3 linked regions of the Homo sapiens genome follow. The protein of the gene in region 1 interacts with the protein of each later gene in a biochemical or structural test. Each region holds a gene or a part of one and is shown on either strand. Other genes may lie near its edges.

Region 1 (3,751 bases):
TCACCTGAGGTCAGGTGTTCGAGACCAGGCTGGCCAACATGATGAAACCCTGTCTCTACTAAAAATACAAAAATTAGCCGGGCATGGTGGTGCATTGGTGCATGCCTGTAATCCCAGCTACTCGGGAGGCTGAGGCAGCAGAATCGCTTGAACCTGGGAGGAGGGGTTGCAGTGAGTGGAGATTGCACCATTGTACTACAGCCTGGGCGACAGAGCGAGACTCCATCTCAAAAAAAAAAAAAAAAAGATGTTTGACAGCCACTGTTCTATCCCAAGAATTTAACAAGGAATTTAACAATTTTTAAAATAGTCCTGAATTATTATAGTTAGTATTTAAAAATTATTATGTAGCCTGAACATTAAAAGATTTCGAAACGTCTACCCAAGAGTTTCATAACACTTTCCATGACGGGGAATTTCAAAATGTACATTTTTCCGTTGCTGAAAAAGTCAGGCATGGCCAGGGTGGGCTTCGCAAAGCAGGCTCTGCCCTTAAGACTCTAGACTGCTCCTCTCTCCCACCCCGCCCCACCCCTCACTTAAGGGCAAACCGAAAATGCAGAGGGCAGCAGAGGGTAGAAAGAACCCCGAGGAAAACGCAGCATTGGGTGGTAAGGAAGGTGGGGCTGCAGGCAAATGACCCAGGGGCCTGGGGTGGAGGAAGTATCACTTCCTTGCCTGCCTCCTCTGGGGCCTTTTCTCTCCAGCATCGGGCTACAGTTCTGCTCTCCGTGACACAGCTTCCCCCTGGAAAGCAGAAGTGGTCCTCCCTCTCCAGAGAGCCTCTCTGAGATAAGCTTCTCCATTCCCCTCACCTCCGTGGGGGTTAACATTTACAGGAAGAGTGGGGGCACCCAGAGACCCAAACACCAAGAAGACGTCATTGCTTCAGTGGGAGGCAGAATGAATACACACCCATCTCTCCAGTCTCACTGTACCAGCGCCCAAGGGTAGGCCCAAAGACCACACGAAGACCTCCCCACCAGATGTTTTACCAATGGAGGGAGGAAAGCGGGGACTGGAAAGAAGCTTCCAACCAGTATGGTCTGGTGTCAATAAAGAGGAGTGAGCAAGATTTCAGATGCTCACAGAAAGGTGTGGGCAGGCAGGCAATATGTAACTTTGCCTGAAGCATGGACTGTAGAAAGGAAATGAGACCAACTAAAAAACTATCTGAGCTGTGAAGACTTCTTCCCAGTGTTCTACAACCCAAAAGCAGAGCCTCAACCATCAAGAAACAGCCACTTAACTGGATTATTTAAATGTATCCCGATTCATGCAGTTCTATAGGATGTCATTTAAGTAGCAGCATTCTGAACACTGAGCATTTACAATAATGAGGTTAACTGACAATCTCTTCCCATACACGGTCAGCTCATGCCAATTCCTGGTTGAAGAAGCCTTTGTAAGATGATAGGGAATGAAGTGGGGAGAGCAGAAGAAGGGGTACTGGAAGCCTGAGGGTTAATAAAGCTCAGTGAAAGAGCAATGCCATGGAAGAGTTCTATACCAAGGAAAACTGTATCCTGAGTGTAAGTACAGCTTTTAAGAAATAGCTCTGTGGCAAATAAGGAATGCTGCCAGCTAATTCAGTAATGAGAGAAAATGAAGTACAGAACAGGATGAAGGGGATAAACAACAAAGGCTACTACAGGCCCTGCTCTTGTCAGCATGGATGAGGCTTTTTAATACATCATCCCAAGTATTTAAACTTGCTCTTCTAAATTACAAGACAGGGCCAGGCACGGTGGCTCACACCTGTAATCCCAGCATTTTGGGAGGCCGAGGCGGGCTCACCTAAGGTCAGGAGTTCAAGACCACCCTGGCCAACATGGTGAAACCCATCTCTACTAAAAATACAAAAATTAGCCAGGCATGGTGGCGGGCGCCTGTAATCACAGCTACTAGGGAGGCTGAGGCAGGAGAATCACTTGAATCCAGGAGATGGAGGTGCAGTGAACTGGGATCACGCCAAAGCACTCCAGCCTGGGTGACAAGAGCGAACTCTGTCTCTTCAGTGGGAGGCAGAATAAAAAATAAAGAGAGCCCTTCCAACTAACTTAAGCCAAATATACCCCAGAAAGGCCAGGCGCAGTGGCTCACACCTGTAATCCCAGCATTTTGTGAGGACGAGACGGGCAGATCACTTGGGGTCAGGAGTTCAAGACCAGCCTGGCCAACATGATGAAACCCCATTTCTACAGGAAATACAAAAATTAGCTGGGTGTGGTGGCACATGCTTGTAAGTAATCCCAACTACTCAGAAGGCTGAGGCAGGGAGGATTGCTTGAACCCAGGAGGCGGAGATTGCCGTGAGCTGAGATTGCACCACTGCACTCCAGGCTGGGCGACAGAGTGAGCCTTCATCTCAGAAAAGAAGAACAAACAAAACAACAACAACAAAAATCTCAAAAGGTCCAAGTCTTTAAACTGACAAAATTTCTAATCCCTCCATTGGCAGATTTCCATACCATTCTCTACACATGGGTATCTCCCCCGAAAGGGAACTTATTCAAAATAAATTTTAGAAATGATAATGGAGTGAACTTAAAGTTTCACAATTTAAGTATCAGGAAACCAGACAGCTGTAAGAAATCTTTCAGTATTTCTGACTGGAAAAAAAAAACCCAACAACTTCCTCTTCCATGTTCTTCTCTTCATTATCAGCCTTAAAAGATGGGAGGCAATGTATATCTATACTGTTGGCCTAGAACAGTGCCTTGCACACAGCAGGTGCTCAAAATGATCAGGTGTTTTAATGTGCGTCCTATGAGCCCTGTCTCCTTAATTTATATTTTCACTTAAATGATGCTCTCACTGATAAAACAACCAGGAGGTTGGCAAAGTTTACAGGGAGACACTCCCAGCACAGGTCGGGGAAAGTCCTTTTGCAAAGTATTACTCAGGTACTTCTGTATTAACCATTAAGCAACTGATTGCCCCCAAGACAGTCACTAGGGCTGCTCGGACAGCAGCCAGTATAGGTGTCATCTTAGCAGTTACTGGAGACCACCCTTTCCCACCCCCAAGCAAAAAGCAGTGCTAAAAAGCACAGAAATTCATTTCTAGAAGACAGCTTGAAGTGCCCAGCTTGATGGTGCATCTGCTATGTCCTGAGCAGTTAGCCACTTAGTTCAGACAATTACCAAGTGATAAAAGAAAATTAACTCATGATTTCACTTTTAAAATGTTTGTTAAATGACCTATTTATTTGCTTTTAAGCACAGATGGTCTGCAACTTAATGATTTTTCAACTTTACGATGGTGCAAAAGCATTAGGCATTCAATAAAAACTGTACTTCAAGTACCCATACAACCATTTCATTTTTCACTTTTAATACAGTATTCAATAAATTACATGAGCTATTCAACACTTTATTATCAAATGGGCTTTGTGTCAGATGATTTTGTCCAACAGTAGGCTAATGTGAGTGTTTCGACCATGTTTAAGGTAGGTTAGGCTAATCTATAATGTTTAGTAGGTTAAGTGTATTAAATGCATCTTCTACTTTCAGTATTTTCAACTTACGATTGGGTTTATTGGGACACAGCCTCATCATAAGTTGAGAGGCATTTGTAATTGAGCACACACTACAAGTCCAAAGGTGGACAAGTAGAAAGAGCCAAAAAACATACCTACTACTCCTAATGGTACCGCTTAACCAAGCCTGTGACCTTAGACAACCCCCTGAATCTTTTTCTGTATCTGTCCCTCTCCATCCTATAGGAGCCACAAGAGGTTCAAATGAAA
Region 2 (3,751 bases), on another chromosome or scaffold:
TTACAGGTAAAAAGCTACACATAAAGCATGAAAAGGCCTATTACACAAATGTACAAATCTCTGTACAAAGCTTGTATCAATGTTTCCTAACTTTGTCTCCTATGTTTGTTAGCCAGGTCTAGTCTTGGAGCTCTGAATAACAAGAGCTCTCAATTGAGGGGGGAAAGAGCCTCCAAACTGACATCTAAAAATTCCTCTTAGAGACACCAGTTACTTCCAAACAAATCTTTTCCTTTTTAATTTGAATTACCCCAACTGGTCATATCCTTTGAAAACTGCCTTCATAATACACTTAAAAGTAATGCCTTAGAGTAGAGGACAGTACTCTGGAATTAAATAAGAAACTTCAGCAGGAGGAGTGCTCAGGTTTGACAAGAAAAACAGGTAAATTTCAAACAATACTGTAAGTTAAAACTATAAACCTGTGTCTATGGCACCAGTCACAGATGAAGGAAAATCGAAATGTTTTCATTCCAACAGGAAGGACAAAAGAGAAAAGCCTAGCTACTGGACCTCAAAACCACTGACCCAAGGAAACATTTTTTAGTTTAAACCTCAGCTTAACTGCAGAATTCTAAGCCTTCTTTTTGATCAAACTGAGATCTATGGCAACCCTTCTGCTACCCGGGACTTGGAAGGATAGTGAATATAAATTAGGCTCTGGACCCCCAAGGCTGGTGATGCTACTGTAACCTCTACAGCTCTGGATTCAACCTGAGGGCCTGGGATATGTGACTTTACATAAAAATGATCCTAGAAAGTGGGAGAAAGAAAGGAGGTAGTGGAAGGCCTAGGAAAGAGCCAGGGCAGTCTATTGAAAAGGATATAAGAAGCCTTTCTCTACAATGCAAGTGTTGTGAAGACAGGTCTTTATGGGCTATTTCAACCCCACCCCCAATTGTCATATTACATGGTTAGGATGCCAGGAGACATTCTGAAAGACGATACCGCACACATGGAAAGTTTTTCTCCCTAGTTCATTAGCTCCCCATCACCCTTCCACCCCATTCCCACCCAATCCCACCCTTCTCCATGACCAAAAATATCAAATCAGCAAGGAAGGTGTGGGCTTCTTGCCTGGCCAAGCCTCTTTTGCATATTTCTTCTTCTTGGGTTCATTTACAGCTTCAGGGTTATAGACTGCAGGGTTTGGTGCAGGGTTCATGTTCACTGCTGACGGCACAACAGGAGTCAAGTCCACATCAGGGGCAAGGTTTGGGTATGGCATGGGCAAGCCACCGATGAGTGCTGTCCCATGGATGCCATGTGGCTGGGAGCCTGCTTCACTGTGTGTGGGGGGCAGGCCCCCGTAGAGTCCTCCGCTGAAGGCAAAGTTCTGCATGCGCCTGCTCCCTGATTCCTCCAGGCCCAGGGAGCCAGGGCCCTCCACACGCTTCTTCTACAGTTCACGATGAGGAGAGGGGAGAGATTGGAGAGAGAAGACAAGAGGTGAGGCCCAAGAGTGGTTAGCTTTTTCTATTCCAGCCTTAAAAAAATGGCTTTTGGGAAAGATTCCTAACTTCTAGCCTGTTCTCCTTTCCAGACAACCTATTTCATGATGTTGAAATCTTACGGTTTGAAGAGACCTTTCCAGTCATCTACGATGGTTCCCAAACACTGCTCCATAACAAAGTTTTCACCATCCTACATCAGCCAAGGATGGTGTTGTGAGTTTTACATAAAGTAAAACATATCAATTTAATTTATCCTAAAGTTACATAGCTCACTTTCTTATTTCATATTAAAATGCCCTTTTAGGAGGAACACATGAGATCAGGAGTTTGAGACCAGCCTGGCCAACATGGCAAAACCCCATCTCTACTAAAAATACAAAAATTAGCCAGGCGTGGTGGCAGGTGCCTGTAATCACAGCTACTCGGGAGGCTGAGGCACAAGAATCACTTGAGGCAGAGTTTGCAATGAGCTGAGATGGTGCCACTGCACTGCAGCCTGGGTGACAGAGTAAGACTCTGTCTCAAAAATAAAAAACATTTTTAAAAAAATCCCTTTTAGGAAATGGAAATGATAAAAGATGGCAATAGATATTTTACCCTTTTTTGAGGGGGAAAAAATGTGGTATGTCCATGTTTGGTGTGCAATTTTTTTTTTTTTTTTTTTTTGAGACAGAGTTTCACTCTTGTTGCCCAGGCTGGAGTGTAATGGCTCGATCTCAGCTCACAGCAACTTCTGCCTCCCGGGTTCAAGCCATTCTCCTGCCTCAGCCTCCGGAGTAGCTGGGATTACAGGCATGCGCCACCACGCCTGGCTAATTTTGTATTTTTAGTAGAGACAGGGTTTCTCCATGTTGGTCAGGCTGGTCTTGAACTCCGGACCTCAGGTGATCAGCCCGCCTCGGCCTCCCAAAGTGCTGGGATTACAGGCGTGACCCAGCACGCCCGACCTGGTGTCCAATTTTTAAACATTAATCTGAGAGCAAAACCAATCTACAGTGAAGAAAATATTTACTGGCTGCCTGGGCCTGGGAGTGGGCTGCTGCAAAGGGCTACGAGGCAACTTTTTGGAGTGAGAGAAATCTTCTCTATCTTGATTATGGTGGTGGTTACACATATATTTGCCAAAACTATATACGTAAATGTGTAGATTTTATTATATGTAAATTATACTGCAATAAAATTGACATAAAACTATACACCTGTTGATTTTGTACTTTAATGACAAGAAAACATTCCAAAGGAATAACAAACAAACAAAAAAGCTCAAGGGGCATTATGGAATCCCACAGAAAAACATCTACTTTTCCATACTAGACTAAAGCTCATGAAACATCCTGCTCAATCCTATACTCCTTTTGGATTAAACAAAGTCTAAGCAGGAACTCTGACAGATCTTACTTAGTCTAATATATTTTAGAGATTTTTTTTTTATAAAAAGTAAAACTTTCTATATCATCTCTAACCAGCATTTTCTAATCACCTTCTGAATATTAACAGGGATCTCACTACTCTTAAGGGGAAGTTTGTTGCTGTTTGGACAGTTCTAGCTATCTGATAGTTCTTCCACATGCTGAACGATCGGAGCATCTCTGTAACTTCTACCCCTTGGTTCTTCAACATACAATCTTTTTTATTTAGATGGAGTCTCGCTGACGACCAGGCTGGAGTGCAGTGGTGTGATCTCGGCTCACTGCAAGCTCTGCCCCCCGGGTTCACGCCATTCTCCTGCCTCAGCCTCCTGAGTAGCTGGGACTATAGGCGCCCACCACCACGCCCAACTAATTTTTTTTTGTATTTTCAGTAGCGACGGGGTTTCACCGTGTTCGCCAGGATGGTCTCGATCTCCTGACCTTGTAATCTGCCCACCTCGGCCTCCCAAAGTGCTGGGATTACAGGCGTGAGCCACCGCACCCAGCCAACATACTTATCTTTAAATTTAATCCACATCTGGGCTGACATTCCTATCTGTGCCATTGCCACTCATAAAATAAAGGCATGGCAAACTGTGTGGTATTGCAATAATGCATCTCCTCCACCTAATAGCTTACTTTGAGTCCGAAGAGAAAGGCCAAAAGAAGGTGGGCCTCTCTCTGCACCCCTCTGGAAAATGAATTTACAGATTCATATTGCACATTATTTACATGAAACATCAAGCTGGCTAGTTATCTACAGCCTTTCTGTGGTACTCCAGGATTCCCTAAACATAGATTTCATTTCCACAGAATGAGAAATGGGAGAGGAGCATGGTATGTATTTTAAAATTAAGCACTCACTCAACAGCACATAAAGAGCAGGTT
Region 3 (3,751 bases), on another chromosome or scaffold:
AATATATTTGTTTATTTTCTGTCAACACCACTACTAGAATGTAAGCCCCAGGAGGCAGGGGCTATTTCTTCTTTCCTGATCATTTCTAAGCACTGAGAATGGGGCCTGGGCTCCCAGCAGATCAACAATGTTTGTTGAATGAATGGAGAGAGAAGTGGGCTAAAAGGACAGATAGACAATAAAAATCGTAAACACCATCTAATATTTTTTAAAGTTATAGTCAAACCCTACTCAATATCTTCATGTTTATTCTAGCATAATAATGCCATGTAACTATAATTTGGTCAAAAGATGGGGAGGAACAGGAAAGTACTCTTGGAGTACCTGAGTAAACTGCAGAATGAGTTGAAACTGCCAAATAGCCTTAGGTGGTAGTTCAATGCTGATATCAGCCACCATAGGCAAGAATTGGTTGCAGTCTTAGTAGTCCTCACAGGAAACCTATGTGGTCTGTACATTTATTATCCTATTTCACAGATGAGGAAATTGAGGCCCAGAGAGACAGAGTTACTTGTACAAAGCCACATAGCTGTTAAGAAGCCGAGCAGATATCGAGACCCAGAGCTTTCTGCTACATGGGCAAGCTGGGGCATCAGCCTTCCATGCAGCAGTGGCGAGCTTGCCTTTGGGCTGCTCGGGCCAGAAAATCCGGAAACGGGCCCTTACCGATGTACATGGAGTTGGAGTTGGGGAAAGGCTTGGCAGGCAGGATGGAGTTCTGCAGAGCTTCCTCGTCATTGGAGGGTGGCGGCTCATAATCCGCGTCATCTTCCACGGGTGCCTCTTCCTCCTCATTGGGGGACTCATAGTCTCCATCATCCTCCCCATCCTGGTCATCATTGGGACTTTCATAATCGTCTTCTTCCTGCCCACACAGTGATAGGGACAGTGCAGTTTGTAGAGGCTCTGTGGCCCTCGATGTGCCTGTGCCTACTCTCTCCCTGCCAAGCCTCACAACAGTATAACCCGGGACCAGGCAGCCTGAAGATGGTTACTCCCATTTTACAGATGAGGAATCTGAGGTCAGGGAGCACTGTACCACAGGGGCAGCAAGTCATGGACTTGAGACCTTGGTGAAGGTCTTCGGACCACCTTTTTACACAACACCTTTCTGCACAACAGAGAGAGAAGAAAGGGGAAGGATGCTGGAATAGAAGGTACCGGAATAGGCTCTGTCTTGAGTAAACACATTTTTTGCTCCAGGCATCACCATGAGAAAGACTAAAGGCCTGGAGCATTTGTGATGATACTAGTTAATTGCCATTTCTGTTCAAGGGTGCCTGTGCTCAAAAAATGTCCTCTCATTATAACCTGGTGCAGCGTTGAAGGCCCGGCTAAGGGGAAAAACAGATAAACAAAGCCTGTTAAGTGGAAGGCAGATTAAGTTGTGTCGAGGAGGGGACCGTCAGAGGCTGTGCTGTTCTTTTTGCTGAAAGTTGAGTGTATCAACACATCCATTATTCATGAAATCTGACACTGAGTTTGAAGCTGTTCTCTTGGAAAGAATCTCTAAATTTTAGATTTTTTATTGTATTTTATTTTTGCTTCTTCTTGGATCTCAGGGAAAGTAAGCCCGAGGTGCTGGATGCTTGCCTTTGAAGCAGTCCATGAAGGTGAATGAGCATCAGAATGACCTCCCAAGCAAAGGCGGCACCATCAGCAGCAGTGATGAGCGCTCATCATGGTCATGCCAAAGTCCAGGGGGTGAGTCAATGAGCCCAGACCTCAACACTCAAGGGCAGTGTGGGAAAAAGCAATGGGAAGTGGCCACTTTTTGAGGAAAGAAATGTTCCAGTGTCCTAGAAATCCTGACAGCTTTGGGTGGCCTCAGGCAGACTGTCTTTACGTTGTTCTGTTGAGAGAGTCCTGTGTTTGTTTTTGACTTGAGGAATATTAAAAACATCAACAACAGAGGGGCAAAGTGAGCATTGGGTGCCTTCCCAACTCCAAAAAAAGACTTTGTCCTGCCCTGTCAGGGTTCTTATAACTTTAGGAGCAGGTGGGCAGAGCCCCAGAGGAATGCTGCTTCAGATCAAGAGCCTCAGCATGGAGGTCCGCAGGCACGTGGCCTCCCTCCAGGCTGCTGACCCTTTCCTCACCCTGTCTACCCTAGGCCCATCATTCCTGACTTTACACCAGCTCTTTACCCCATCAACCTTTCTCAAATGACAGAATTTTCCTCTCTGCTTCTAGAACAATTATTTTCTCCCAATCATTTGGCTCCTAAATTTGTATGCATGATGTTGTTGCTAATTATATTCTGCCATATGTGTGTTAAAGTAAATTAAAATGGAGACCAGGCCTGAAGAATCCCTGAGCAGACAAAACCAGTTGGGCCTCATCAGTGACCTAAACCTTACTTGATTTGCAGCATAAGCAAAAGTTAACTTGGGCTATTTCTTGTAAATGCCTGTATTAAAGAAAAACAGAACTTAAGCCCAACCAATCAGAAGTAGCCAGCCAACTCATAATTATATAACTAGGAGCTTTCCAGCAAGATAGACTAAATGAGATCGGTTATAACTGTAACCCATCAAATATTTTCTTTTTTTTTTTTTTTTTTTTTTTTTTTTTTTGAGATGGAGTCTCTCTCTGTCACCAGGCTGGAGTAGTGCAATGGTGCAATCTCGGCTTACTGCAACCTCCACCTCCCGGGTTCAAGCAATTCTCCTGCCTCAGCCGCCCAAGTAGCTGGGACTACAGGCACGCACCACCACGCCCAGCTAATTTTTGTATTTTTTAGTAGAGATGGGGTTTCACCATGTTGACCAGGATGGTCTCGATCTCTTGATCTTGTGATCTGCCCGCCTTGGCCTCCCAAAGTGTTGGGATTACAAGTGTAAGCCACCGCACCCGGTTCAAATATTTTCTTTGTATTACATCTACATTCACTTTATAAATGCTTGTCCCTCATCCTTCTTCAGCAAAGCCTCCTTCTGGTTTGGTGCTGCCTGATTCATGAATCACTGTTTGCTCAAATAAACTCCTTAAAAAAAAAAAAAAATTGCATTGTGCCTCAGTTTACCTTTTTAAAATGGGGTATCCATACTGTAAAATGCTTATGATTGGGTCCTTTATCTCCACTCATTTCCCAGTATGCCCTTGCAAAGAGCTGGGCACATAACGGAGCTGCCAAGCTCTATAGCCACTAGTGAATGGAAGCCCTCAGTTTACAGAGAGGATCGAAGACTAGCCTCAGGCACAGCACAAGAGAGGCTGCATGGCAAGGATTCTGCCTCTGTGAGTAAACAGAAACATTCCAGCGGAAACTCTGGGCTATTTTCCCTTTGTACCAGAGAAATCTGTCAAATTCCTTCATTTTCAGGTAGAAAGCATAAACTTAGCTAAATCTTTTTTTTGTTTTTTTTCCAATTAAATACTTTCTTTTACCAGAATCCCAATAGGTCAAGGGACAGTTTGTTTCTGCCTTCTGAAGGCACTAGAGGTGGCCTCTTACCAGAAGGCCCACGTGACTGAGGGTCTGGTTACCTGGGTCCTAGGTCTGCCTCTAACTAACTTTGTGTTCTACGCACGTCACGTTCTGCTCTCCTGTGGACTCAGTTGCCTCATCTGTAAAATGAACAGATTGGGCTACGGTCCATAATAGAGTTCTTAGCCTGAGACTGCTTCATGGGTGGTGACTGTGTATACAGGTTCCTGGGGAGGGGTTGTACAATCCGTCAGACTCTCAGAGGGGGAACTGTGACCTTTCAATGTAAAAATCAACTGGATTGCACCCTCTTTGAGGTCT

What was found.
Region 2: of the proteins of LYN (region 1) and PPP1R8, one has a biochemical effect on the other in vitro, tested with the Homo sapiens proteins (one study listed by BioGRID).
Region 3: the proteins of LYN (region 1) and LCP2 form a complex in vitro, tested with the Homo sapiens proteins (one study listed by BioGRID).

What each region holds. Positions count from the first base shown.
Region 1 is NC_000008.11:55,882,737-55,886,487, reverse strand, and holds part of LYN (tyrosine-protein kinase Lyn), read right to left. Parts: intron 1-3,751. UniProt on the Homo sapiens protein: Non-receptor tyrosine-protein kinase that transmits signals from cell surface receptors and plays an important role in the regulation of innate and adaptive immune responses, hematopoiesis, responses to growth factors and cytokines, integrin signaling, but also responses to DNA damage and genotoxic agents.
Region 2 is NC_000001.11:27,847,741-27,851,491, reverse strand, and holds part of PPP1R8 (nuclear inhibitor of protein phosphatase 1), read right to left. Parts: intron 1,400-3,751; coding exon 1,046-1,399; 3' UTR 1-1,045. UniProt on the Homo sapiens protein: Inhibitor subunit of the major nuclear protein phosphatase-1 (PP-1). It has RNA-binding activity but does not cleave RNA and may target PP-1 to RNA-associated substrates. May also be involved in pre-mRNA splicing.
Region 3 is NC_000005.10:170,270,053-170,273,803, forward strand, and holds part of LCP2 (lymphocyte cytosolic protein 2), read right to left. Parts: intron 866-3,751; coding exon 667-865; intron 1-666. UniProt on the Homo sapiens protein: Adapter protein primarily involved in signaling pathways within T-cells, as well as other immune cells such as platelets, mast cells, and natural killer (NK) cells.